Linked DNA regions of Homo sapiens: all the other regions are linked to region 6. Evidence: fine-mapped expression QTL. A gene starts in region 6. Each other region holds a variant in brackets. All regions are shown on one strand. Distances are between the middles of the regions.

Region 1 (4,954 bases), 110 kb after region 6:
TGGTACAAGAGCTATGGGGAAAAGTTTTTTACTTTAGAAGGCTACAGGGGAAGAAGCAATGTCCTTAGGGGAGGGCCAGGTTTCTATTACAGCAAGAGAAAAGAAAAAGTAGTGAATACAGAGAATGGATTATGAAGTTCAAAAGGCACAGTAGAAGTCTTTCAGAAGTTGGGATGGGGTTGGAGAAAGAAACAGAATGTGTGGAGAGTTTTTTGGGAATTAGTGTGAGATATGAGAGCTGACCTGGAAATCTAGGGTTTCTTGTGGTATCTGGCATAAACAAGGATAAAGTGATAATGCAGTCAGTCTTCACAGACTCAAGGTGGACACCAGTGGTGAGGCCATGTTAGTGAGTAGAACATCTGTCAATGGAAGAAAGAAGGTGTGAAATACTTTGGTCTTAGTCTTAAACTTGGGAAGCCCTCAACCCTGCTGAGAGGGTGACAGACATCTGAGGAAGCAAGTTGCTCCTCTGAGCACAAAGGACCCCTGTCAATGGAGGAGAGGGAACCTGGGGACATGTGGTTTTAGTGCCAGTGCCTAAGTTCACTCTTGACTCCTGTTGGTAGAAGGGTGGGCTGATTATGTTATAAATTATGTCAATTCTTCCCAACAAAGTAGAAGAGATCTGAAGAGGCTGGGTACTGCTTTCAGCTCATGGGTTCCTTTCTTGACCAATTAAGTATCGATGCCTGGGACCAGCCTAGCCAAATTAAATCAGAATCTTTAGGTTTTATTTAATCTAAAAGTGGGACCCAGTCATCAGTATGTTTTTTTACAAGCTCTTGAGGTGATTTTAATATTCACTCAAGGCTGAGAACCACTTTTATATTGTCATTCTTCCCCTATATAATTGGATTGCCTGAAAGTTTCCTCTATGTGAGTACATTTACATTTTTGCCTACAACTTTTAATGTTATTCACAATTAACAGTTGCTGAGTGCCTATGAGGTATAAGGAACTGTGCCAGTTGTTGTGTAAGACCCTAAAATAAACCAGGTATGATCCTTGCCTTAAGAAACTTATAGTAGGAAGGTTAAAAGCATTAAACTGTAATACAGTAAAAAGCATAATGAGAGATATGAAGGAAATACAAACAAAATGCAATAGGAACACAGACTATGGAGACATTAATTCCTCAAGCAAATGCTCCACTGAACATTATCTGATTTCAAAACTCAGATACCACTGATATTGAAGTGGGAAGGTAAATAAAACATATTCACATTTTACCTGGCAGTGCCAGTAAGCTCAATCACTTTTTGCCTTTTCAAATCTGCTTCATGTGCAGCTGATTCACATTTCTCCTCCATTTTTCTCAACTTTTCAGCTGAACTTTCCCTTTGTTTTTGAAGTTCTTGTTCCAGTTTTGACACCTTGTAAAGCAGTTTTCAGTAAACATTTTAAATTCAGAAGAAAAATACTTTTATAAATATGTAACCTAGCTTATCAGTTTCAAGATGTATCATAAAAATCAACATATAGACCAAGAAGTAATGTTTGGAAAATATAAAAAGCAAGGCTTACTTTCTAATAATAAAGATACTTCACATACATATTACTATTTAGGGAAGTGGCCACATCATAACACTAAAGTGTTAAAATAATTGAACAAAATGATAGTAAATATTCCCCTTTTCATTGTCCCCATTTGAAATGCCCTTTCTTCTCTTACCATACTGCTCCTTTCTTTTCTTCACGAATTGGCTCACTCAATAGATTCCTAGATTTCCACATGACCTCAAATGCTAATTTGCATTTGCTCCCATCTTAACTTGAATCTGTTCCTATTCATTCTTCCTCTATTCTACTACAATAAAGGAGGTATTCTTCCTCCTTTATATAAATCAAACTGCTTCATAGGTGTTGTGGATTCAATTCCTATTCATTTTTTCAGGAACTTCATACTACTATCTCCTCTTTCCAATATCTTCAGTCTCTCTACTGTTTTTTTAATATTAGCATTTAAACATGTTAAAAGACTTTCCCACTGTAAAAAGCTTTTCTTCAGACCTTGACCTCCCTCTACCTACTACCCTTTATTTCCTCCCATATATAGCCCAACTTCTCAAAGTTTTCTATGCATGTTGTATCACTGTCTCACTTCTCATTCTTCAACCCATAGCCAGAGGCCATTCCACAGAAACAGGGATTACAACACCAGTGACTTCCAAGTTGCTAATTCCAATGGACATTTCCCAACCTTCATTTTACTTGACACTGATTCCAGTAGCCCATGACAGCAACATTCATTCCTTCCTTAATGAAATACTTACTTTGGCTTCCATGTATCACATCCCTCAGGGATCTGTCCAAGTCAATCTTCTTGCTTCTCATTCTATATTCTCTCCCTAGGTAATTTCAGTCACTCCATGTCTTCATGAATATTTATATGACTGTGGTCTCAAAGTTAACCTCTCAACTCTGACCTGCATATCCCCCGTTCTTCTAAAATCCCTCACTGAAGAACTAAATATAGATCATAAACCATTAATATCTTGCCAGGTGCGGTGGTTCACACCTATAATCCCAGCACTTTGGGAGGCCAAGGAGGGTGGATTTCTTAAGCCCAAGAGTTCGAGACCAGCCTGGGCAACATGGTGAAACTCTGTCTCTACCAAAAAAAAAAAAAAGAAAAAAAAAGAAAAGCCACACACACACACACACACACACACACACACACACACTCTTAGCTGGGCATGGTGGTATGCACTTGGAAGGCAGAAGTGGGAAAATCACCTGAGCCCAGGGAAGTTGAGGCTGCACTGAGCCATGATCATGTCACTGCACTCCAGCCTGGGTGACAAAGTAAGACCCGGTCTCAAAACAAAACAAAACAA[G/AACAAAACAAG]AAAACCCCATTAATATCCACCCCTCCACCTCAAGTTTCAAGAAGAAAATTAAAACAGTACCCAGGTAAAAAGGGAAAGGAACCAAGGAAAATCCACCTACTCAATTCTTAATTAAATAGAGAAATCTGAAGATGCAAAATGGAACCTATGCACAGTGTAATATGAATGAAAGGCAGAAAAGGAATACCAAGTCAAAAATTTACTCCAAATACTGAAGAAATTTTTAGATATAAACTTCTGTAGACCTCAGTGAAGCTAATGAGAACACAAAATCTTTTAAAACAAGATCACAAAGAAAATCACCAAATAAAAAATACAAATGAGGCCAGGCGCAGTGGCTCACGCCTGTAATCCCAGCACTTTGGGAGGCTGAGGTGGGCGAATCACAAGATCAAGAGATCAAGACCATCCTGGCCAACATGGTGAAACCCCGCCTCTACTAAAAAAACAAAAATTAGCTGGATGTGGTGGTGCGCACCTGTAGTCCCAGCTACTCGGGAGGCTGAGGCAGGAGAATCACTTGAACCTGGGAGACAGAGGTTGCAGTGAGCCAAGATCGCACCACTGCACTCCAGCCTGGCGACACAGTGAGACTACGTCTCAAAAAGAGAAAAAAAAGAAAAAAAAGTGAACTTGTTAAAAAAAAACAAAACAAAACAGAAAAAACCATACAACCATTATAGAAGTGAGTTAGGAACAAGAATCATAATCAATCCTGCAAGAACCAGAGTCAATGACAAAGGATGTAGGCAGTGGGAATCAAACATAGATGAGAAGAAGAAATGCTTCAGGATGAAGCTGTATAGTAGGCATAGCAAGCAGTAGGTCTAAATTTTAACAAAAGGGATGGAGAGTCACAGGAAGATGTCTCTTGAAAAAAAATAGAGGCCAGGAGCAGTGGCTCACGCCTGTAATCCCAGCACTTTGGGAGGCCCAAGTGGGTGGATCACCAGAGAAGGGAGTTTGAGACGAGCCTGACCAACATGGAGAAACCCTGTCTCTACTAAAAATACAAAATTAGCTGGGTGTGGTGGCACATGCCTGTAATCCCAGCTACTCAGGTCGCTGAGGTGGGAGAATCGCTTGAACCCGGGAGGCGGAGGTTGCAGTGAGCTGAGATCGCGCCATTGCACTCCAGCCTGGGTGACAAGAGTGAAACTCCGTCTCAAAAAAAAAATACAGAATACCTGCCTGATGTGTTTAAATGTAGTGAGAGGAAGATACTTTAGTTCCACTGGACAGGCTGAGGAGGACTTCAGAACAAGTAGATAAAAGACCGAAAAAATGACAAAAAAGGAAAATACAGTAAGATTACAGGGGACGATCATTTTCTAATTTACACATTACTGTAAATTTGATTTCTTTTCAAAGAAAAAACAAAATAAGAATGTAAAATATCTAAAGAATTCAGATAAATTCAGTAATGAATTAAAGGAAAAAGATTAGATTCTAGTATAAAATTCTCTAGAATTCTTACATTCAAGTAAGTAATAATTTTTAATTTTAGAACTTTCAGGGGTATTTTCCCTTGGGATTTTTCTTTTAGTGCACTGCTTTGCCATTTCTTTAAGGAATATCACATACCATGTCCTGATCCAAAAAGGAAAAATTATAGGTATTCAGATTAGGTACAAGAAGAGAGATTGAATAAAGAAACATGAATTATAAATTGTATGGAACAGCAAACATATAATCATGGTATAAGAGATGGAGGTCAGATTACATAGGAATAGAACTTTATTTTACAATATCAGTATAGAGTATTTCTTATAATGCAAAATCCTTGAGGTTTAACAGCAATTTTTTTTTTTTTAGGCGGAGTCTCACTCTGTCGCCCAGGCTGGAGTGCAAGGGCACGATTGCAGCTCACTGCAACCTCCACCTCTTGGGTTCAAGCAATTCTTGTGTCTCAGCCTCCTCAGTAGCTGGGGTTACAGGCATGTGCCACAATGCCTGGCTAAGTTTTGTATTTTTAGTAGAGACGAGGTTTGGCCATGTTGGCCAGGCTCGTCTCGAACTCCTGACCTCAGGTGATCCGCCTGCCTCAGCCTCCCAAAGTGCTGGAATTATGGGCACGAGCCACGGCATCTGGCCAAACAGCAATTTAAAAAAC
Region 2 (4,954 bases), 140 kb after region 6:
CTGGCTCTACATAATTGTACAACCAGCTTAAGAGCCCAGCATCAATGACTTTCTGTTCTTACAAGGATTCTTTTAAGAAATACTGCATCAACAAGTCTTAATGGCACACTGGGAGATACTGTGAGGAAAAACTTAGACATTTTAGAGGGTTAGACTCCAAATGTGAAGTTTTAAAAATATCTTAACCAATTTATTTCACTTATATTTGAAATATGAGAATAACTTTTTTGAAAAATATGAAAATAACGACTTAAGAAATCATATCTAATTACAAATACAAGAATTCTTTCATGAAGTATAAAAATTTTAAGTGATAAAGGATTGCATCATAGTGTAATTGGCAGCATCTTTCTTTCTTAAAAGTATATCTTGCAATCGATAACCGATTCTAAAAAATACTCTAGTAAAAAGTATCTTTACTTCCTCCTCCTTGGCAAAAATACTAAACAGACTACCTTAAGGAAAGTATGGCAAAATTAGACAAATCAGTCATTGATTGCTTCCTGCTCCCCCTTTTTTTTAAATTAACAGTTTGAAGTGATAAAGACTGGTTAATATTAACCTCTGAAAGTTGATGGGTGTTAGTTTTGAGAGGACAACATGATGTACTAAAAGAGAGCATTGGAGTCAGAAGACTTCGATCTTTCAGACCTTCAGTAAATTCTGGCTACTCTCGGGGCTTCTGTTTACTTATAAAATGAGAAGTCTGGACTAGGTAATTTTTTATGATTTGAAAAACACTTTTTTTTAGAACATCGGATATTATACACATTTTACTAGTGAGTTAATGTGGTTATACATCAAGGACATTATATCTATTAATTTTCTCTAAATATATGCAAAGCAAATATGTTGATCAGTATGTCTCCGTATTTACAAATATTATTAGCATTAACACATTTTACTTCACTTCTAATTCTAACTCTATAGCTAGAAAACAGTTTCAGTCATGAAGCCTATCCTTCTATATAATGTAAGCCTATAATTACAACAATAAAATATTGTGTTTTAAAGTGTTTCAGTTTTTTCCATGTCCACACAAAAATCCTTTTTCTACAACAGAATACTGTACCTTAATTTCTCTTTCAGAATTTCAAGTTCACTTTTATATAGACCACACCTTTCTTGTAGCCTTTTATTTTCTTTTTCACAGTTAGTTAGATTTCTCTCTAATATTTCTTCTTCAGCTTGAACCTAAAACAATAATTTAAGTGGACATACTAATGTGGTTGTAAGTTTTAGGTGTTTCAAGCTAAAAATGTCAGTAGTGATTTCAGAAATAAGCAGGAGAGTAGACTAAGAATTTCATACATTTAAGTCCCCAGCCTTGTAGTGAAAAGAAGCAAAGTGAAGTTCCTGGGCAGTAGCAAAGGACAGAGAAAAAGACACTACTACCTGTCCAGAAAACCTGTAACAGATAGGCAATTGCATCAACTGAAGTCAAAAATTCATCTACAGCTGCTGCGTCCGAGTTACTAAAGGTTAATTTCAGTGCAAATATTCCAGAGAAGTTACTTTTGAAATTTGAACCACAAAATTTACCAACGAAACCACAGCCCAAAATGTAGAACAGAAAAAAGCACCCAAGATACACTGTTGAGAGGAGAAGATTGGGTAGATCTGCCCCAATTCCTTTGTTACCCTGTTACATCCACCTAACTATAGGGCTTTGCTGAGCATTGTTTGCAATTGATAATCCTAAGTGTAAAAAAACAAAACCTGTCTCTTACATTCTTCTCTCCTTCTCCATAAAGTCCTTCTTCTCCCCAAGCATATTCCTCCTACTAGGTCTTCTACCTCCCCTTACTGATCACCTTATTAAAAATCCCTTCTAAGATATTTCATTCCCACAAGGACCCTCTTTAGCTCTCAAAACAGCGTTCTGATTAACTAATTCACACTTAAGATTTCAGTACCCTAAAACTTAAAGTATAATAATAATAAAATTTAAAAAAAAAAGATTTCAGTACCTAGTGAGACCTTAATATTTTACACTGCCAAGTGATACTCACAGTTTTACTGCAAAGGAATGACCACTTTGTAATCAACTGCAGACTTTCTCCTTGATCTCAGTATTTAATATTGTTGGTAACTTCTCCTCTAAAATATTTTATCATGTAGCTGTCATGATAATATTACACTTGACTCTGGCCACTCTTGTTTTCCTTGCTTCCTTTTATTAACTCATCATTCCTGACTGCTCTTTTCTTTCCATATATTCTCTCAAAAGTTTAGCAAATTTCTTGGCTTTCCTTATTGCAAATATATTATGAGAAATACTCACCCCAAGTTTCCAAAATCCCTCCTATCCTCCTTACGCTATGAAAATCACTTAAGCAACATCTTAATTTATGAGACCAAAGACATTTAATTCAAAATCGTTCAATTTCCTTCCACCTAAAACTTTTTTCTGTTTTTATCCACTTTTTTCCCATAAAGAAATGTCCTATTTCATTAAAAAAAAGAATCTCACTTCTGCTCTTGGACTATCATCTTGCATATCATTCAGACCCTTGTGCCATCTTTTATTCCTTATAATTCTAGCATCTTCAATCTCCCCCTACTAATATGTTCAGGATACCCTTAGGTGCTTTACCACAGCTTCTTCACCTTAACTTAGCTTCTTTCTACCCTTCCATTCGCTGCCTCTCCCAACCCACCACACACACTTATTTCCTCTTCACCTACCGTATGTAAAGAATTGTCTGTTAGCTACCTCTACCCCCTCCCTTTCCATTTCTCCCATTTCAGAGGTTGTGCCTTCTACTTTAATAAGTTGCTCTCTACAAAGTATCCAATGACTCCCTGATTATAAAAACCAATAGCCCTGTCTTGTTCCTCATCTTTCTAAATTTTTTTTTTCTGATTTTTTACAGACAGGGTCTTGCTCTTTCACTCAGGCCTGAGTGCAG[T/G]GGCATTATCATGGCTTAATGCAGCCTCTAACTCCTGAGTTCAAGCAATCCTTCTACCTCAGCCTGCTGAGTAGCTGGAATTACAGGCATAAGCCACCACACCTGGTTCAGTCCTCATTCTTCTTGACCAATTTGCAACATCTGGCACTGAAGATCACCACCTTCTTTTTAAAATGTTCTATCACCTTGGCTTTTCTTATTATACTTTCCTGATTCTCTAATTTTTTTAAATCACTTCTCGATATCTTTCAAAAGCTAATCTACCTGTTCTTTATCTCCCAGGGTATCTTTCATCTTGTTCTCATTCTATATGAACTCTGTCAATGTCCAAGGCTTCTACCACTTTAATTCAGTACTGTTAATTCTCAAAACTACAGCCCTAGTACAGATTTGTATGTCTAAATCCAGACCTATAGATACAAAAGCCTACCTATAACTGGATATTCTACAGACATTTCCAAAATAGAACTCATTAACTTTTTTTCTTAAACTGTCTATTTTGATTCATGATGCAATCATCCAGCAGTCACTCAAACCAGCAACCTAAAAATATCCTATATTCTTCTTTCTCATACTGCCCGCTTCTAATGCATTCAAGTGGTCACTAGATCCCACTGATTCCCCAACTTTAACATCCCTCATAGCTACCTACTCAGCTCCTTCATCTTCAATATCTCTTGCCTTGTCTTTTAAAGTCTCCTTGACTTGTCTCTCACCTCTCAAATGCATCTTCACATGACATCAGGGTGAGCTTCCTAGAACATAGATTTTGATCATTTTCCCTGGTTAACACTGTTCAAAGATATATCACAATCTTTGAGATAGCCTAGCAGCTCAAGCATTGCCTACTCTGTGAAGCCTTCTTTGGGCCCACCAGAGTTTATTAACCACTGCCACCTTCACCCACCCTACCACACCTACCTCTTATTTCTATATTATACTTATTCCAAAATACTGAAATTATTTGTTTACATACTTGTCAATCTTACTAGACAGTGAGCTCTTTAGGATAGGTATCATGTGTTATGTATCACCGAATCTCCCAGAGACTAGCACAGTACCTGGCATGTAAAAGGAATTTCATGATTGTTTAATAAATGAACACCCATCTTCTTACTCTACCCTTCTACCTGAACATTCCTTCCTCTGCCTTTCTACCTTTCTTGGATCAGAATCATAAACTTCCTCTGCTTTCATTGCTATCTCAAGATGGAAGTCTCCCATATTAGTATCTCTTTACCAGACCTCTCTTTTGAGCTCAATATCTGAATATCCAACTGTGGTGTTCCTCCATACACATTTCATTACCATGTGATATTACTTAAAGATAATAAATGAATATAATAAATGAATGTAATAAACTCACTATTATTTCTATATCAAATCAGTTCAAGGAACCTTCCGAGAGGCAGAAGCAAGCCCCTCTCAGAGTAGCAGACTGAGGGAGACCAGTTGAAAGCTACATAATCTATCTTCATTTTCATTGAAGTGATAAAAATGAATTTCTTTTTTCTACTTCTTTAGCTCCAGTCTCTGTTAACACATTCCATCCTTCTCTGTATTTTGTTCCTTCTCCTCTCTCTACTCTTTTCCCTCTTTGGATAAAAAAGTTTCTCCTGATAATAAAAGGGTTGGTGAACATCATCCTTAACTAACATTTACAAATTGTTTATTTAAATGATTTTGTAAGATCATAAAAATTACTCTCTGTCTCAACCATAAACATATTTTAATTATTCCTACCTTTACTGTTGGAATATAGACAGTAATACAAAACACTGAATTTGCACAACTGCCTTTTACCTTTTCCAGTTTTTCAGCCACTTTTTTTTTATATTGTTGGAAAGCTTTACTCAGCTCTTCGGCATTATATAGTGCTTCATTCCTTTGTCGTTCAGCTCTAAAATTTAAAAAGAGATAATGAATAAAAGTGAAGAATGCTCTGCATTTGAAGAGTTAAGTTCCAAAGTAATCTTTAATTATAAGGAATAATTGGAGAGAAACAAATTTCTCTGCACTAAAAAGGAGTATTAGGCTTAAAG
Region 3 (4,954 bases), 53 kb before region 6:
ACATAGGGAGTATGGGGATTACAATTCAAGATGAGATTTTGGGTAGGGACAAAGCCAAACCATACGGCACAAGACATTAATCAATACATGTAAGATTTACTTTGGCTTGATCTGGAAGGATGGGACAACTCAAAGCAGGGGCTTCCAGGTCATAGGTAGATTTAAGCATATTCTGATTGGCAATTGGCAATTGGTAGCAGGCTTCAGAGAAAATAGATTGTAAATGTTTCTTATCAGACTTAAGGTCTGTGTTGATGTTAATGCTGGAGAGGTATAATAAGGTATGTCCAACCCCTCCCACCCTTCCTGTCAGTCATGGCCCCAACCAGTCTTTCAGGTTAAATTTTAGAGTGTCCTGGCCAAGGAGGCAGTCCATTCAGATGGTTGAAGGGAGGCCTTTGAATTTTATTTTTGGTTTACGTTCTGAAAGGACTGGGAACCCCAAGACACATAAGCTATCAAGCAGCACACTCTTTGTTCAGAATGTGCCAAGCTCTCAGGGGAGTTTGTCTCTTTTTTTTTTTTTTAAGAGACAGGGTCTCACTCTCTCACCCAGGCTGGAGTGCAGTGGTGCAAAATAGCTCGCTGCATCCTCAAACTCCTGGGCTCAAGGGATCCTCTTGCCTCAGCCCAGTGGCTGGGACTACAGGTGTGTACCACCATGCCTGGCTAATTTCTCTCTCTTTTTTTTGTTTAGGGGAGTGGGAGATGTTGCCCAAGCTGATCACGAACTCCTGGCCTCAAGGGATCCTCTTGCCTTGCTTCCCAAAGTGTTGGGATTATAGGTGTGAGCCACCACACTCGGCCAGGGAAGTTTGTCTTCATAAGAAGTCTTAACCATAAGGGACTTTTGTTGCCTCGTTAGTTCTGGGAAAGTCTAATCCAAAGAGAACCTACCTGTTGTCACCAATTAAAGGATCTGTGACTGGTAGTCCCCTATAAATTTGTGGGTTATTGAAGTGTAGAGGCTAAAGCAATTCCATTTTGAATGCTTATCCACAATGTTGACTTCTGATTCCCTGTTCTGAGAATACCTCTAAGATTTCTACTTTACTGTTACTGTAAATTCTGCCCTTAGGTCAAATAACCTTGACTTTAAATCCTGCCCTTTGGCAGATTCACATAGCATTCTTGCCTTTCCCTGGGTGTTGACTTCACTTGTCCTACACATTCCTCCCCTGTGGTATGTAAACCCTGGGCCTGGGAGGGTAAATGGTGCAGGGATCCACTATCTTGTCTTGCCATCAAACAAGACACAGAGATGGCTTCTCTTTGTTAATTCCCTATTAAATCTTTCTTCCTGAAAAACTGGATTGTCAGCCTGTTTCTTCAGCCTCTCAGCTTCCTTAAACTTTGGGGGTAGATTTGCATAGACTTGCTCCCTGCAGAACATGAAGGAACAGTGCACACAAACACCATTCTTTACCATCTGTGACAAGAGGTTTTTGCTATTTTGGCCTATTTCTGGGAGTGAATTTGGGGAAATCATGGGAATTAGCTGTTCTATGCCCTCTCCAGGGATACGCTTGCTTATGTGGTAAAAACTTATTCCAAACCTGGAAAATTACCTGCTGGTCTATCCATGAAGAGGTTTATTGAATTGAGTTGCTATTGAAATAAATACATAGTTGGAAATTCTAATCGTTAGTGGCCAGAAGATGGATCCTTTGGACTAGAAAGACTCCTATATCTGAAAAATATTTTACTCCATTCTAAGTAATTGCCTTATTTGTTTTTGTGGGAGGATCAAATTGAAAGAAAGACACATATTAGTGTCATGACTAGCCTTAGAAATTCTCCTTAAAAAAAAAAGCAGAAATCAGATTTAAAACAAAGTTAAAATCCTTTGTACACTAAAACTGCCTGCTTTGGATTCCCCACAGGATTTAAAAAGGAGACATTTCAACTTGTAGTCTAGTCTTATATTCCTAGATGTAGGCCAAGCTAACTTTGGGAAGAACTTAGTTTATAGTTTAATCTTAAAGCAAAGATGATAATAACCCCTTCCCCAAGCTAACCCACCTTTGCAGAACTAATGAAAGGCCATAAGGTTAGGATTATGAGTGGGGTCTGAATGCTGATAAGATGTAGATATAGTTTCTATAATCCCTTACTTCTCAGGAGTCAAGTGGCCAGAGGTCACAAGATTTGTGACCTCTCCAATTGCTCCTATAGATCACATCACTATTGTAGAACCTGACATTGGTGTTTTGAGATTTTTTTCAGACTGTCTTGCAACTAACTGACCCCATCTGGACCCATGACTCATAACTCAACTGGTCCTGTGGCCCCTATCCAAGGTGGAGTTGGCACATGTGGACCATTTTCCATACCCCTATGATTTCATCCCCACCCAATCTGCAGCACCCATTCCCTATCCCCCTGTCCACCAAATTGTCCAAAACGTTGGCTTCCCGGAGACTTGTTATCCCATTTACTTTTATTCTTCCTTCCTTTTTTGCCACCTTTGATACCACA[C/T]GAAGAGATCTAGAGGGGACTCTTAGCAACTATGACACTCCTTAAGGAAGACCAAAAAGGTGCCTCTGACCACATTTTGGGGTCTCCTGTCTTCTTCATGAAGCACCAAAAGTCATGAGAAGGTTCTTCTCAGGTGTAAAACCCTAACTCCTGAGCCTTCGTGGAGACTGATTTGAGTGATAACTCCAGTTCTTCCACATGGCTGACCTTACATCAATTAAACTCTTTCTCTATTGCAATGCCATGCTCTAAATGAATTGATTCTGTCTGTAGAGCAGGCAGGAAGAACTCATTGGGTGATTACAGGTTTGATATTTGTGTGTAACTCTTGACTTTTGGAGTACCCATTTATTACTGTTCTTGTTCCCTTCCATGGACAGCTTTTAGTTTCCTGTCTTACTAATTGTTTGTCTATTTTAATCTTCCCTCTATGGGGCATGCAATTGCTGAGACTTTATGTGAAGATGGTTAGTTGATAAGCCAAGACCCTAAAGAACATGGTTGGTCAGAAATGTATATTGTACCCCATTTGCAACTAGTAAATTTTTTTTCCTTGAGCTGTCTTTGGGGTAGTTCTGGTTCTTGTGAGAACTGCTTTGCACCTTTTTGGAGATGCCTTATGCATCCTTGGTTAAGTCATAAAAGGCTTATAGGTTTTGGTTGGAGTCACTTGGAAGATAACTTTGATTTAAAGAAGTTCAAAACCAAGAATATTGGCTGTTTGTCATGGCTAAACTCTGACAGATTTTAAAAGATTGTTTTTAAAAAGCTTTATGTGGTCAGAAGCCAGCTTAATTAAAAACTGATATTCAAACTAAAAGTTTTTTTAAGGCCTTTCTGCTTTTTCTCTTTTGGATCTTGTTTCTCCCATGAGAATTTTTTTCAGTTTACTGAAACTCTTTATAAAAAGTTATATGTTTGGGCTGGACATGGTGGCTTATGCCTGTAATCCCAACATTTTGGGAGGCTGAGACAGATCATTTAAGCCCAGGAGTTCAAGGCCAGCTTGGGCAACATATGGAGAACTCATGTCTACAAAAAAAAAAAAAAAATTACCTGAGTATGGTGGCATGCACCTGTGGTCCCACCTACTTGGGAGCCTGAGATGAGAGGGTCACTCGAGCCTGGGAGGTCGAGGCTGCAGTGAGCCATGATGGTGCCAATGCACTCCAGCCTGGGTGACAGAGTGAGACCCTGTCTCAAAATTGTATGTGTGCGTGTGTGTTTATGTACATATACATACACATGTGTGTGCGTATATATATATGTGAGTGTGTAAAATATGTTTCATCCCTCTGTTTGCTTCCTTTCCTGTTGGTATAATTTTTTGCTTAGAAAAAGGTAAAACTTCACTGACTTTTTTTGAGAAGTTTTAAATCTCCCCAAATTGGCTTCCCTGAGACTTATTATCCCATTTACTTTTATTCTTCCTTCCTTTACCACCTTTGATACCACACGAAGAGATCTAGAGGGGAACCCTAGCAACTATGACACTCCTTAAGGAAGACCAAAAAGGTGCCTCTGACCACATTTTGGGGTCTTCTGTCTTCTTCATGAAGCACCAAAAGTCATGAGCAGGTTCTTCTCAGGTCTAAAGCTCTGCTCTCATTTGCACTGAGCTCCCTGACAGCTTTGGCTTTGAGGGTACCAGAAGTTACTTTGTACTGTGAGAGAATACCTGATCCTTGAGTATGCAATGGCTGGCTCTACATTCAGTGGCTGCAGTCACTGGTGAGGGCTGCAGTTTTGGAGGTGGCTGACAGTGGTTGCAATGAATAGGTATTACACAGAGGCTACTTTTTTTTATTTTTATTTTTTGCATGGCTAGATTTTTTTTTTTTTTTTTTTTTTTAATGAGACAGAATCTCGCTCTTTCGCCCAGGCCGGACTGCAGTGGCGCTATCTCGGCTCACTGCAAGTTCCGCCTCCTGGGTTCACTCCATTCTCCTGCCTCAGCCTCCCGAGCAGCTGGGACTACAGGTGCCCGCCACCACGCCCAGCTAATTTTTTGTATTTTTAGTAGAGATGGGGTTTCACCGTGTTAGCCAGGATGGTCTCCATCTCCTGATCTCGTGATCCGCCCTCCTCGGGCTCCCAAAGTGCTTGCATGGCTAGATTTTTTAAAAAGTACATTTTGGAAACTTGGAGGCTGTAGGAACACTCACCACCAAAGGATAAGACTCCTATGGGGGATAGGCTGATCACAGAGTGGGCTGGAGTCCTACCAGCCTTGGGGGACTTTTATTGAGTCACCCACCAGCCTTGGGGAACTTTCCTTCTAGTGAGATACACTGTAGAAGATTGCACGACCTGTTTCCATGACCTTTCTCTCTTGGACTTTTGCCTCCACTCTGAGAAACTGGAATTCAGTGTGAAAATGGGGTCATAAATTTCTAGGATCTAGGTGCTCTGCCTTCCAGCTGTGTCTGCTTTTCACAAATACCAGTATTAGGCCCAGGAAACTGTAAGCATTTTG
Region 4 (4,954 bases), 110 kb before region 6:
TTCTTGCTAGAGTTGTCTGAGTTCCTTACATATTTTGAGTATTAACCACTTTTCAGACCCATAGTTTACAAATATAGTAGTCCCCCCTTAACCACAGAGGATACATTCTGTTCTTTCTTTTGTGAGACAGAGTCTCTCTCACTGTGTCGCCCAGGCTGAGTGCAGTGGCGTGATTTCAGCTCACTGTAACCTCCACCTCCTGGGTTCAAACAATTCTTGGAGTAGCTGGGATTACAGGTGCATGCCACCACACCTGGCTAATTTCTGTATTTTTAGTGGAGACGGTGTTTTGTCATGTTGCCTAGGCTGGTCTCATATCTCTGGCCTCAAGGGATCCACCCACCTTGGCCTCCCAAAGTGCTGGGATTACAGGCGTGAGCCACCATGCTCAGCCCACAGAGGATATACTGTAAAACTCCCAGTGGATGCCTAAAACCTCGTGTAGTACCAAAGTCTATATGGGTCTATACTGTTTTTCCTATACTTCTATACTTGCCATAAAGTTCAATTTATAAATTAAGCACAGTAAGAGATTAACAACAATACTAATAATAAAAGAGAACAATTAGAACAATAAATAGTAATAAAAGTTATGTGAATGTTTATTTCTGAAAATTTCCATTTAATATTTTCAGACCACAGTTGACCACAAAAAGCAAAACTGAAGGGTGGATTACTGTAATATTCTTCCATTCCATGGGCTGTCTTTTCACTCTGTTGACTGCTTCCTTTGTTGTGTAGAAGCTTTTTAGCTTGATGTAATCCCTCTTGTCCATTTTGCTTTTGTTGCCTGTGTTTTTGGAGTCATAACTAAAAAATCTCTGCCCAGATCAATGTCATGGAACTATATTTTCTTCTAGTATTTTTACAGTTTCAGGTCCTATGTTTAAGTCTTTAAGCCATTTTAAGTTGATTTTTGTATATGGTGTGACATGAAGGTCTAGTTTCATTCTTCTGGGCTGGGCACGGTAGCTCATGCCTGTAATCCCAACACTTTGAGAGGCTGGGGCAGGAGGATCACTTGGGCCTAGAAGTTCAAGACCAGCATGGGCAACACAGTAAGACCCCATCTCTATCTAAAAACAAAAAATTCATTCTTCTGCATGTGGATATCCAGTTTTCCTCCTCAAAAACCTGTCTTTGATCTATAAAAAGAACTAAGAGAAGATATTGCTCCAAGATACTAGTAGAAGATGCTATTTTAAAATTACATTCAGAAAACAAAACCAAAAAAACACAGCTCTTAGAAATCAAAATAGCAAAAATTAAAAACTTAATATAAGAAATTCCTGTTTCCGGCCGGGCGTCGTGGCTCACGCCTGTAATCCCAGCACTCTGGGAGGCTGAGGCGGCAGATCATGAGGTCAGGAGGTCGAGACCATCCTGGTTAGCACGGTGAAACCCTGTCTCTACTAAAAACTCAAAAAATTAGCCAGGCGTGGTGGCGGGCGCCTGTAGTCCCAGCTACTCGGGAGGCTGAGGCAGGAGAATGGTGTGAACCCAGGAGGCAGAGCTTGCAGTGAGCCAAGATCGTGCCACTGCACTCCAGCCTGAGCAACAGAGTGTGACTCCATCTCAAAAAAAATTAATAATAATAATAATAATAAATGAAATAAAAAATAAATAAAATAAAATAAAAAATAAATTCCTGTTTCCAGTAATGGTGGGCTAAGTTATCTGGGTCAACTATCACTATTTAACTTAATAAAAAATCTGGATAAAATATATATCAAAATTTTTAAATCATCAAAGATAAGCCAAGAAACGTGAAGTAAAAAGGAGAATCCAGAAAGGTAAAAGAGCACATAAGCTACTCTTGCCCTGAGGATGTTTGCCAATCTTGAAAAATTAGAATCACTGTTTTGCTAGTCTAGCAAGAGATACAGGGGAAAAAAATCAAAATCCAACAACCACACAAGGGAACTGCACATTTTAAAACTAGTTTAAGGTAGTCCCAGACCAGTAATGACCCCAAGCAAATGGCAGAAGAAAACACAAATTCTATACATAAAATAGAACATTGCAACTAACCACGGAAGGATGAGTCTCACAGATACCAAGGAAGAAGATGCAAAATGGAAGAAAACAGATGTTAAAAAGGAAGAAGGTGCAAAAGAGTACTTACCATACGGTATCATTTATATGAAATTTTAAAACCTACAAAAGTAATCAATGGTGATACAATTCAGAATAGTGGTTGGAGGTCAGACGCAGTGGCTCACACTTGTAATCCCCAGTGCTTTGGGAGGCTGAGGCAGATGGATCACTTGAGCCCAGAAGATCCCAGCCTGGGCAATATGGCTAAACGCTATCTCTACAAAAAATACAAATATTAGCTGGGTGTGGTGGCAAGCACCTGTAGTCCTGCTACTCAGGAGGCTGAGGATGGAGGATCACCTGAGCCAGGTAGGTCGAGGCTGCAGTAAGCTGTGATGGCACCACTGCACTCCAGCCTGGGCTATGGAAGTGAGACCCTGTCTCAAAAAAGATAAGAAAGAAAAGCAATTGGCATATATTAAGCACTCAAATTTGTTGAATCAATAGAGGGATTCAGTGGCTTGTCATCCCCTGTAAATACTCCCCCAAAAGCAACGATTTTTTTTTTTTTTGAGACAGGGTCTTGCTCTATCACCCAAGCTAAAGTGCAGAGGCAGATACCAGCTCACTGCAGCCTCGACTCCTGGGCTCAGGTGATCCTCCCGCCTCAGCCTCCTGAGTAGCTGGGACTACAGGTGCCCACCACCACGCCCAGCTTATTTTTGCTTTTTTTTTTTTTTTTTTTTTGGTAGAGAAGGGGTTTCACCATCTTGCCCAGGCTGGTTTCTCTGGGTTCAAGAGCTCCACCCACCCTGGTCTCCCAAAGTGCTGGAATTACAAGCATGAGCAGCTGCACCTGGCTCCTTTTCTATAAATTGGGTGTGCAGCAAGGACACAGCAAAAACAAAACAGATATCCTTTACTCCCTAAAAACAACAAAATTATGATGTACCAAAAATAG[A/G]AAAATCTCACTCTATACACTGATTCTTTTCAAACTATAACAAGTATACAAATACTAGTATTTCCCGTCTTTCATGAGATATTTGTAAAGTCTGCTGATTAGTTATTTATCAAGAACTTAAGGAAAAAATGCCCCAATTGCCAAACATGAATAACTAATTTGGATTCAACATGGACACTTTACATAAACTTTTATCCTTGTTATTAGAGATTTTTTTTCTTGGGCTCCATACAGATTCTAAATGCTGACTCCCACATTACAAAAAGCAGTCAGACATTATTTTTCCTTGGAGATAGTGTCTCATTATATTGCCCAGGCTGGACTCATTCCTGGGCTCAAGCGATCTTCCTGCCTCAACCTCCCAAATAGTTGAGACTAGAGGGGTGTACCCCCATGCCCAGGTAGATAACATCTCACAATGCCCGACGGCATCCCCCTATAGTATAAAAGAGGTTTCAAAGAACTAGTCAATGAAAATTCTGTAAAACCAATCATAGAAGTTAATACAACTTATTTTGGGAAAAAAAGGAAAATGCCGAAAGGCACAGATGACAATATTAAAATTATCTGTAACACTAACAGATTACTTTTATTATTTTTAAAGCACAATTTGCAGTTTTAAAGCATTTATCATTGTCATCAATTAGAAGGTGATATTTCAAATATTCTAAAATATTTTCTTATTAGAATACTCTTAGTACATAAATCAGCTCATGAAACTAGGAATTAAAGCAGAAGAGTGGGGATCTAAACTAACTGCATTTTTCCCAGTGAACACCCTCTCACCTCCAGAAAAAGCACTGATATTTAAACTGATATAGAAGTAAAAATATAGTTGTCCACCAGCATTGGTATTCGCCATGGATGCTCAAGTCCCTTATAAAATGGCATGTGGCATAGAGCCAGGCACAGTGGCTCATGCCTGTAATCCCAGTACTTTGGGAGGCTGAGGGAGGAAAGTCACTTGAGGCCAGGAGTTCACGACCAGACTGAGCAATACAGCGAGACCTTGTCTCTACAAAAGATACATTAGCTAGGTATGGTGGCACATGCCTGGAGTCCTAGCTACTTGAGAGGTTGACGCAGGAGGATCGCTTGAGCCCAGGAGTTTGAGGCTGCGGTGAGCTATGACTGTGCCACTGCACTCCAGCAAAATAAACAGGCCAGGTGGGGTGGCTCACGCCGCTAATCCCAGCACTCTGGGAGGCCGAGGCGGGTGGACCACGAGGTCAGGAGATCGAGACCATCCTGGATAACATGGGGAAATCCCGTCTCTACTAAAAATACAAAAAATTAGCCAGGCGTGGTGGTGGGCGCCTATAGTCTCTGCTACTCGGAAGGCTGAGGCAGGAGAATGGCATGAACCCATGAGGCAGAGCTTGCAGTGAGCCAAGATCACACCACTGCACTCCAGCCTGGGCGACAGAGCGAGACTCCGTCTCAAAAATAAATAAATAAATAAATAAATAAATAAATAAAAATAAAACAGCACAGTATATGCACATAACCCACATAACCTACACACATCGTCCCATATATTTTAAGTCATCTCTAGACTGCTTATACCTAATACAATGTAAATGATATGTGTAAATAGTTGTTATGCTGTATTGTTTTTAGATCTGTATTATTTTTATTGTTGTATGATTGTTTTAATTAGTATTTCCAGTCCATGGTTGGTTGAATCCACAGACGTGGAAATCAAATGATATGGAGGGCCTACAGTATACAGTCACAGATAAAGGGAAAATAAAAAACAATATAAACGAGCTGTAGTAATAATATATATTTAAAAATAAAACTAATTTCAAATTAGTAACATATTATTAAAGGAAATAACATCCTTCAAATATTCTTGCAGCGGCGCTAAAATAAATACACTTTCATCTTCTAAAACCCAGAGGTATTCCCCTCCTGCCACCAAAGTATTCAGAAGCAAGAGGTAATCCCTTCTAC
Region 5 (4,954 bases), 130 kb after region 6:
ATACAGTATGTTCTCTGATCATCATGAATGACACAAAAATATCTGGAAAAACCTCCAAATATTTGGAAATAAAACACACACAGCCTATGAGTCAAAGAGGAAATCACAAGAGATAACTATTTTGAACTGAATGAAAATGAAAATACAACACATTAAAAAAAGTAGTGGAATACACCCAAAGCACCGCTTAAAGGGAAGTTTCTATCCTTAAATACTTAGATGAGAAAAGAAAAGAGGTCTAAAATCAATAATCTAAACTTTAAGAAAAGTTTTGTGGTTTTTTTGGAAAAAAAAAAAAAGAGAGAAAATTAAGCCTAAAAGTTAACTGGGAAAAAGTACAAAGGATCCTGGTGGAGATGTCTTATGTCTTGACTGTGGTGATGGTAACAAGAGTTAAACATTAAAACACAAACACCTGACAAAACGTATCAAACTGTATATTAAAATGGGTGCATCTTAACTGCAGGGGTCCCCAACCCCTGGGCCACGGACTGGTACCAGTCCATGGCCCATTAGGAACTGGGCCACATAGTAGGAGGTGAGTGGCAGGCGAATGAGCAAAGCTTCATCTGTAGTTACACCCACTCCCAATCGCTCGCATTACTGCTGGAGCTCTACCTCCTGTCAGATTAGCGGCAGCATTAGATTCCCACAGGAACACAAACCCTATTATGAACTGCACATGCGCAGGATCTAGACTGCTCACTCCTTATGAGAATCTAATGCCTGATGATCTGTCACTGTCTGCCATGACCCCCAGATGGAACCTTCTAGTTGCAGGAAAACAAGGTCAGGGCTACCACTGATTCTACATTACGATGAGTTGTATAATTATTTCAACATCAATATGATAATAATATAAATAAATTGCACAATAAATGTCATGCGTTTGAATCATCCTGAAACCAACCCTGACCCTGTCCCTGGTCCATGGAAAAAATGTCTTCCACAAAACCAGTCCCTGGTGCCAAAAAGGTTGGGGACCACTGTTCTATTGGATATCAATTTTACTTCATTAACGAATGATACAAAGTCTAATAATTCTGAAATAACTTTTGCTGTCTTATCAGACCACAACTAGTAACAGATTATCAAGTATGTTTGATAATAGAAACCAAACAGTTGATAAATTTGTTCTTTAAAAACTATCATCTGAGAACACATGGAAACATAGAGGGGAACAACACATACTGGGGTCTATCAGAGGGTGGAGGGTGGAAGGAGGGAGTAGATCAGGAAAAATAATTAAGGGGTACTAGGCTTAATACCTGGGTGATGAAATAATCTGTAAAACAAACCTCCATGACACAAGCTTACCTATGTAACAAATCTGCACATGTATCCCTGAACTTAAATTAAAAAAAAAATTTAAATAAAAGTTTTTTTAAAAAAAAACTATCATCCAAAACTCTGAATATAATTTATTAAAATAACTCAATATACTTACCTACTTGATGACCACCTAGCTTTACAGGTTCTGTTTCTAAACTACTTAATTTGCTACTTTCTTGGCTGTCATTACAAGTAATAAGACTCTGAGATAACTGATTTGCAGTCAGGTTTGCATGAAGCTTTTGAATTTCTGCCTCTTTTATTGCAAGCTTAATTCTGGCACAAAAGAAAAGAAGGGAAAAATTATTAGAAAGATTCTATAAAAAAACTCATACTGTACTATTTTTCACCTTTCAAGTTGATTTAAAAAATTAGAATTCTAATATTAGTCAACTCTTTAGGCAGGATATGAAAACTCCCATATACCACTGTAGAATTATAAATTGGTTCAGCCACTTTACAAACTTGATGGTATTTAGTAAAATTGAAAATGTACACACTGTATGACCCAGCAATTTCACTGTTAGGAATATATACTACAGAAACTCTCATATATATGTATAAGAAAACATGTACAAGGATGTCCTTTGCAGCACTGTTTGTAACAGAAAACAGAAACAAGATACCTATAAAGGAACAAATAAATTATGACACTGTTATAGGACAGAATCCTATACAGCTATTAAAAGTAATTACACAAATCCATTTGTTAATCTACTCTATCTCAATATGAATGAATTTTTTAAATACTGCTGAGTGAAAAAGCAAAATTGCACACAGTATACGGTACATATTTGTGTACATGTGTGTAAACATACAAAAATGAATAGAGAAATATATATCCAATTCATGATGGTGGATACTTAGGGGAAAAATGGGACTAGTCATAAGGATCAAAGGGCATTATTCATCCTGTAATGTTTTATTTTTTATTTGGAGAAACAGATTTAAAACAAATACCACAAATTTTAAGGAGAATCAATCCTGGTTAAGAAGATTCAATTCTTAGTTGTGGAATCACAGATACCTGTTATAATATTCTCTGAGCTTTTCTGTATATTTTTTAAATTCCTCAATTAAGGGTCTTTTTTTTTTTTTTTTAATGGAGTCTCACTCTGTTGCTCAGGCTGGAGTGCAGTGGCACTATCTCAGCTCACTGCAACCACCGCCTCCCGGGTTCAAGTGATTCTCCTGCCTCAGCCTCCCAAGTAGTGGGGATTACAGGCGCGTGCCACCACCATGCCTGGCTAATTTTTGTATTTTTAGTAGAGACGAGGTTTCACCATGTTGGTCAGGCTGGTCTC[G/A]AACTCCTGACCTCGTGATCCGCCTGCCTCAGCCTCCCAAAGTGTTGGGATTACAGGCATGAGCCACCATGCCCGGCCAATTAAGGGTCTTAATTACCAATAAAAAACATTCTATTTGCTATAACTGCAGAATCTGAAAATTGTACCTCAATTCCGAAATCACCAATTTATTTGCCTCACAGCAGCCAATGCAACGGTCTTCCTTGTTTGAGAAGCTACTCATCTGGTATTTAGAAAGATATGATTTAAAGCCAAATAATTCTCTTTTTAACTGCAAGTTTAAAAACAAACATATGTAAACTTATGTAAATGAGATGCATTTGCTTTTTTATTCAGAACTTCAAATTTTAAAAACTGTATGAATTTAATGGAAACAACTTAATGTCCATCAATAGGAGAATATATAAATACATTAAGAAATATTAAGATAATTGGAAAACTACAATAGTTAAAAGAAATAAACCTGAGTCACATAAATCAGTATGGATACATCTCATAACAATATTGAGTGAAAAACAAATTATAGTGGCAAACAGTATTTTCATAAAAACACTAAGCAACATATATATATTTCTAGATGCATCGATATGTGACAATATTTAAAACATGGACGAGAAGGATACACATGAATTTCAGAATAATTGCCATTTCTGAGGAGAGAGGAAGATAATTGGGATCTGACAAGGTACACAAAGAAGATTTACCTGTAAAATTTTATTCTAAAAAAACATAGAGTTGATAAGACAATATGTGTCCCAAATTTTACAAATAAGGTGCTACACTAGCATATGCACCTTTCTGTATGTTTGGATAATACAGAATTTTAAAAGACAGTTATAAAAAGGAGCAAGGTTAGCATTTAATGACTTCTACCTTCAAACTATAACCGAATCACACCTCCTAGAAGTAGAAAAAAATCACATTTTCTAATCGTGTCATTCTTAGCACTACAAGAAACAAACGATCAAGCATACATTACCACATTCGGAATCATATCTCAAATGATTCTTTTTTGAGAGACAGGGTCTCACTCTGTCACCCAGACTGGAGCTTATGATCATAGAGCTCACTGCAGCCTCGAACTCTTGGACTCAAGCAATCCTCCTACCTCAGCTTCTCGAGTAGCTAGGACCACAGGCATGCGCCACCATGCCCAGCTAATTTTTGCATTTTTGTAGAGACAGGGTCTCACTGTATTACCCAAGCTGGTCTTGAACTCTTGCTTCAAGAGTTCCTCTCACCTTGGCCTGCCAAAATGCTGGGATTACAAGCAGGAGCCACTGTGCCTGACCATATATGAAATAATTCTTGATACACAAATGAGAATGCCAAATTAAAATTGTTATCTGTATATGATTACTTTCTAATTTCAAAAGCAAACAGTACATTAAAAATCCAAGCAAATAAACAGCATCCTGGGAAAGCAGATATCAGAGGAGCTAAGATCTTATGTTCTAGTTTAAATTCTACTACTTACCAGTTGGGCAAGTTATTTACTTTCTTGGGTCTAGGTTTCTTCACCAATAAAATAGTATTGAATCAGATGATTTCTGAGATTTTTTTGGTTCATAATTCCACAGTTCATAACAGTTTAACATTGGTAAGTCTACCATCTAGTCTACCATACATTCATATCTGAAACCAACCATAATATATTTACCTATAGTTTCCCCTGATCTTTCCTTCATTTTACACCTATTGATTACAAATTCCTGAATAGGTTTACTTACCTTCTTCTTAATCTCATTTATATATATGGTCACAAATATTACTAAAAGAGAAAAGGTGGTAGACCATTATTATAAAAACATTTTAGGCCAGGCGTGGTGGCTCATGCCTGTAATCCCAGCATTTCGGGAGGCTAAGGCAGGCAGATCACCTGAGGTTGGGAGTTCGAGACCAGCCTGACCAACATGGAGAAACCCTGTCTCTACTAAAAATACAAAATTAGCTGGGCATGGTGGCACATGCCTGTAATCCCAGCTACTCAGGAGGCTGAGGCAGGAGAATCGCTTGAACCCAGGAGGCTGAGGTTGCAGTGCGCCAAGATCTCGCCATTGCACTCCAGCCTGGGCAACAAGAGTGAAACTTCGTTTCAAAAAAATAAAAGGCCGGGCATGGTGGCTCACGCCCATAATCCCAGCAGTTTGGGAGGCCAAGGCAGGGGGATCACGAATTCAAAAGATCAAGACCATCCTGGCCAACATGGTGTAACCCCGTCTCTACTAAAAATACAAAAATTAGATGGGCATGGTGGTGCGTGCTATAGTTTGAGCTGCTTGGGAGGATAAGGCAGGAAAATCGCTTGAATCCGGGAG
Region 6 (4,954 bases):
AGTACTAGTTTTAAGAATCAAATATGCTTTTTCCTAGGGATTTTTCTGCTTGTGTACTGAAATGGCAGGATATATTTTAAAACTACTTTCAAGACGTCATAAAGGATTAAAAATGAATCATTTAATCCTTTTGTCAATACTGAGAGTAAAATATTGGATATGGTCAATATAAGCAGATGTGTTCTCTACTTCAGTACAACAGGAAAGTCACATTTTAAAAAGTTAAATTATAAAAATTAAGTGATAGACAACCACCTGCCTATCAAAATGATTAAAATTAATCATTTTTCCCTGATTTCACAAGCAATCAATAACTTTAATTAGATTATTACAAAAGGCAAGTTCTCACCTCAAATTGAGTACAACTCTTTCACAAGAGTACATGTAAAAATATCGCAAAAGGTACGTTCCCGAAACATTATGAATAGTAAATATGTTTCTCCTCTCTGAAACCACCAGAATACAGTCCCCCAAATCCCTATTACGGGACCAAATCCTTTCCAGGATAAAAGAAACTGTTGAAGTTTTCAGAAGTGCTGTTCCATAAAAGCCTAAGTGTATACATTCAAATAGGAATGACAGCAGGAAAGGACGGGGAAATTTTCCGTTAAAAAAAAAACTTGCATAAACTTTCAATCAAAGATTTCAAAACTTATCTCCACAGAATAGAACAAAGCAAACGACATAAAAGCAAACGAAAAGAAAAAAACGAAAATTTAAAGTTCACCCTATTCTTACAGAATGGAACAGGAGTTATTTGGTAACTCATTCATGAACGTACCATCAAACCATTTTTAGAGCAGAAAACATACACCTTTTATTTAACAACGATAAACTTGACAACGTTGAACACATTGTATGTTAAGAATTTTTTAACTCATGTGTTCAGAAAATAAATCTTTTCCTCTACATTGGTGAAAGGTCAGGTGGGGAAGGGGGTGCTCTGTCTCCACCCACGTTGAAGTTCCTCCGTCTGAATTTTAACTTTCCAAAGGAGAATTTCTGCGTTCCTTAATTATTATCTAAGTTCAACTTCAGGCAAGTAATTCTTGTTGCTTCGGCTTACCTGGCTGTAAAGTGAGATCACTCTTATTCTTTACGTTTTGGGGACGCTGACCTAAATGTTTGCACTCCTTACATGTATTCGCTGGATGAAAAGTACTGCAAAAATGCTACAAAGGGATTGTTTTTAAAGCACCGGCTGCCTACATGCCAGTCTGGCTTTTTCATTAAGTTACTTACCAGGGAAGAGGAATGGAGGCTTTGACACGAAAGGGTCACGCGATTAGCAGACTGCTACCCTAGAACCTCATTCAAACCAGCTCTCACACACGACTTACCTTGTATGACATGCTCTGGTGAGATGGTCTTCTTTTCCGATTTGTTACAAATCTCATTGGCTTCAGAAGATATAAGGTGAATGAATTCAGTGCAGCAGTTCACCACCAGCTCTCGAGCATCGTTGGCCACCCGGACATTAGGAAGAGTCTCTTTGATCATTTTATTGATAGCAGCTCTGGGGATAGTGAGATCATCATCGTTGCCAGACGAGGAAGCCATAGTACCTTCCTGTTTCTCGCGCCCCGGCTTTTAAAAACTCCCCAGCTCTGGTCCACTACTCCACCGAGATTTCTCAAAAAGTCGCCCTCGGAGAGTGATCCCGGGGGGTGCTTTGCGAAGAGGGTGCAGAAAATGAACGGAGGAGCAGCTGGCTTGAGGGCTGGGAACACTCGCGTGTGTGAGAGATTTAGGATGAGTTTGGGAAGAAAGTGGGGGCCCGAGGATTCTAGAGAGAGCACAGCCCAGGCTGAGGAGGGGAAAGCGCGGTGGTCCGGAAATTTGAGCGGCTGGGGAACCACCTTCGTGTCTCCTCAGAGGGGCGGGCGCTGTCGCCTAACTGGTCCCCAACGGCGTCGGAGCAGAGGCAAGATCCAGGGGCACTGGCCTCGCCGCGGTACCGGGCGGGTACCCAGCGGGCTCGGCTCTATAGAGCCCGAGGCCCCGCTGCCGCTGCCGCCGCCGCCAGCAGCCGTTGCCGCCGCCTCGGCCAAACCATCCTTCAGACACCCGCGCCGCCGCCTCACAACATGTCCGCCGCTGCCGCTGCCGCTGCCGCTGCTGGAACGGCGACGGCCGCCTGGGAACTAATATGGACAGAGCCAGGCACAGTGGGAGTCGCAGTGGCTGCCGCCGTGGCCGCGTAGCCCGAACGCAGATCGTGGAAGCCGAAGACGCGGCAACGGTGGTCCCTCCAGATGCCAGGGAAGGTTTGCAGGAAGCCGCTCCCGACACCCTTTGCGCCACCGGAAGCCTCGTTCCCTCAGATTTCCCCCTCCCTCCCGGACCGACTTCCGGGTGTGGCTGCCGCCCTTCCCCCACCCACGCCGGCGGGAGCCGCCCGTTCGCGCTGCCAGCAGCTTCCGCCTGCTACGGTCCTGGCAAGCACCTCGGGATCCCATTCCTTCACAGGGACCCTAGCCAGGCAAGCGCGCGCCTCACTGTACCGGAGAGCTCCAAGCACGCGCTTGGTCTGGGGCCCGGACGCTACATCTGGGAAGGGGTGGGTGGCTGGGTAGATAGGCGAGGAAGGATCGTCTCTACCCTCTCTCAAGTAGCTGAGGCCTCCGAAACCTTCCCTAGCTGGATTTGGGGACAGAGGAGCGCTGGTATTGATAAAATAACTCTCTTTGCTATTCCTTTAGGAGCCCAAATGAGGATTGAAAGTGAGAAGAATGGGACCTGGGCTTGGGGGTGGGAGGTGGGGAAAGCAGAACCCCGTGTGCCTGTTTCTGCGTCGTCTGGAGAAAAAGCTTTTCAAGATGTCTGATAGACCTTATTCGGTTCAAAGCTCTCTAAAGTCCTTCACCTTTTTTTTTTTAAACTTCATGAAAAATGAAACATTTCAGAGAAGTTACTTGCCTAGAGGCAACTAAGTCGCCTAATGGCTAAGTAGGAAAGCAGAAGTCAGTTCCAACATAGTGGAAATGGAGTGGAAATGCATGGCATACAATGAGCTATATTAGAAGGTTCCCATTTAGACAGTTTTCATGTTGTATTCCATGTTGGCTTCTACAGGGGAAAAAAGTGTTAGAGCATCTTAAGCAACTGTTTTTACTTCTTTCCATAGTGACTAGTAATATCAACAGGTGTCAAGGTCTAAACAGAAATTGCATTTAAAAAAAAAAAAAGTGTGTCAGCCAGGCGTTGTGGCTCATCATACCTGTAAACCCAACACTTTGGGAGGCTGAGGCAGGGGGATCACATGAGCCCAGGAGTTCAAGACCCGCCTGGGCAACATAGTGAGACCCGTCCCTACAAAAAAAAAAAATATATATATATATATATATAATATATATTTATATATATAAATATATATTCCAACATCCCACTGTTTATAGTATAGCCTCTTCTATATGACAATATGAAACACGGGTTTTTTTTTCACCAGGCTTGGTGGCAGGCACCCGTAGTCCCGGCTACTCTGGAGGGCGAGGTGGGAGGATCGATTGAGCCAGGGGGTCAAGGCTGCAGTGAGTTGCGGTTGTGCCACTGCACTTCCAGCCTGGGTGACAGAACAAGATTCTTTGTCTCAAAAAAGATAAAAAAAAAAAAAAAGTAAAAAAACTGAGTCTGTCATACTGTCATGTGGAAGAAGAGGCTATACTATAAATAGTGGGATGTTGGAATTTCTAAAAACTAAACAAGACACTGTTGAAATCCATTTTGTCACTTTGGTTCATCAGATTCATTACTCTTGATACATATGATGGCAACTGGCTTGTTGACAGTGTTTTCTTAAAACGTTCTGTCTGAGCCCTATATGCTGCTCTCAAGAAGACATTACAGTTTATTATGCTATTTTTTCATTTAGCATTTTCTGCAGGACAACTTACTGGTTCTTTAATTTCTGAAGTGTAGACACTTGTTTTTCAGTGCTACTAAATTTAGTCAAAACAAAATTTCTTTGATTAAAAACAGTATTTTAATTAAATTTTCTTCAGGCTGGGCATGGTGGCTCATGCTTGTAATACCAGCACTTTTGAGAGGCCAAGGGGGGCGGATCACTTAAGCTCAGGAGTTCGAGACCAGCCTGGCCAACATGGTGAAACCTCACCTCTTCTAAAAATACAAAAATTAGCTGGGTGTGGTGGTGGGCACCTGTAATCCCAGTTACTTGGGAGGCTGAGACAGGAGAATCGCTTGAACTCTGGAGGCAAAACTTGTAGTGAGCCAAGATCGTACCACTACACTCCAGCCTGGGAGACAGAGCACGACTCTATCTCAAAAAAAAAAAAATACTTTATGAAGTGGTGGGTTTGTTTTTTTTTGTCAGTTTACTGTTGATTTAAAGATTTATTATGGTGCCTAAATTTATCTTGACCTTAACAAGTTTATCCGTCTGAAAAAGCTGGCTGGCAAAAAATGTCCCAAGTTGTCACAGTGTCACTGACCCTTATCTTGTCTCTCCTGAAAAAACTATAACTTTGCTTTTTCATGTAACATTTATGTTTATAGACTTATGCTAAATAGACGAGTAGAGCACACATTATTTCAGTAATAGTTTATTGCTACAGGCTTCTGTGGTAGCATAAACAGAATTGAATGTGTAGTAAGAGTTGTAGGTTCCAGTCCCAGCTTTTTTTTTTACTTAGACAAGTCACTCTCCAAGCCTCATTTTCTTCAGTTCAGATATAGAAATATTATGTAACACACAGGATTCAAAATCAAATGAGAGTTGTGTGAAAGTACTTTTTATAGTATGAAGTGTTATATAATGTTAGTGTCTTTTATCATCTTTATCAGGCTTGGTCAGTCTTCAACTAGTAATGAACCATGTAACTAGTTTATTACATACGTGGCTGAGAGAAATTTAATTGGATATAAATACCAGTGTGATATGTCATAAAATATGCTAATCTGTAGCCCATATTTAAATAGTTATTTATAGTACACT

The links. PIP is the estimated chance that this variant, and not a neighbour inherited with it, causes the effect.
Region 1: its variant is the best candidate, but not a certain one, in a credible set for the expression of CCDC18-AS1 in cerebellum (GTEx, PIP 0.85).
Region 2: its variant is the best candidate, but not a certain one, in a credible set for the expression of CCDC18-AS1 in whole blood (TOPMed, PIP 0.61).
Region 3: its variant is the best candidate, but not a certain one, in a credible set for the expression of CCDC18-AS1 in prostate (GTEx, PIP 0.85).
Region 4: its variant is the best candidate, but not a certain one, in a credible set for the expression of CCDC18-AS1 in visceral fat (GTEx, PIP 0.57).
Region 5: its variant is the best candidate, but not a certain one, in a credible set for the expression of CCDC18-AS1 in whole blood (TOPMed, PIP 0.55).

What each region holds. Positions count from the first base shown.
Region 1 is chr1:93,232,670-93,237,623 of GRCh38, reverse strand. CCDC18 (coiled-coil domain containing 18) reads right to left here. Exons shown (of 29, transcript NM_001378204.1): 19 at 1,234-1,376. Among named protein-coding and RNA genes, the nearest start is that of CCDC18, 54 kb to the right of the region's middle. The variant G/AACAAAACAAG (reference allele first, on the strand shown) is at 2,841.
Region 2 is chr1:93,201,750-93,206,703 of GRCh38, reverse strand. It overlaps CCDC18 (coiled-coil domain containing 18), which reads right to left. Exons shown (of 29, transcript NM_001378204.1): 7 at 4,716-4,812; 8 at 1,073-1,194. Among named protein-coding and RNA genes, the nearest start is that of CCDC18, 24 kb to the right of the region's middle. The variant T/G (reference allele first, on the strand shown) is at 2,913.
Region 3 is chr1:93,396,278-93,401,231 of GRCh38, reverse strand. No RefSeq gene overlaps it. Among named protein-coding and RNA genes, the nearest start is that of FNBP1L, 49 kb to the left of the region's middle. The variant C/T (reference allele first, on the strand shown) is at 2,479.
Region 4 is chr1:93,454,433-93,459,386 of GRCh38, reverse strand. All of the region lies in intron 1 of FNBP1L (formin binding protein 1 like), which reads right to left. Among named protein-coding and RNA genes, the nearest start is that of FNBP1L, 8.8 kb to the right of the region's middle. RefSeq lists enhancers at 3,659-4,177, 4,178-4,697. The variant A/G (reference allele first, on the strand shown) is at 2,999.
Region 5 is chr1:93,208,755-93,213,708 of GRCh38, reverse strand. It overlaps CCDC18 (coiled-coil domain containing 18), which reads right to left. Exons shown (of 29, transcript NM_001378204.1): 10 at 2,783-2,907; 11 at 1,448-1,608. Among named protein-coding and RNA genes, the nearest start is that of CCDC18, 31 kb to the right of the region's middle. The variant G/A (reference allele first, on the strand shown) is at 2,637.
Region 6 is chr1:93,343,252-93,348,205 of GRCh38, reverse strand. CCDC18-AS1 (CCDC18 antisense RNA 1) reads left to right here and starts at 2,395. Exons shown (of 9, transcript NR_034089.1): 1 at 2,395-2,482. It overlaps DR1 (down-regulator of transcription 1), which reads right to left and starts at 2,299. Exons shown (of 3, transcript NM_001938.3): 1 at 1,341-2,299. The coding sequence starts at 1,560. RefSeq lists enhancers at 1,460-1,669, 1,730-1,799, 2,169-2,704.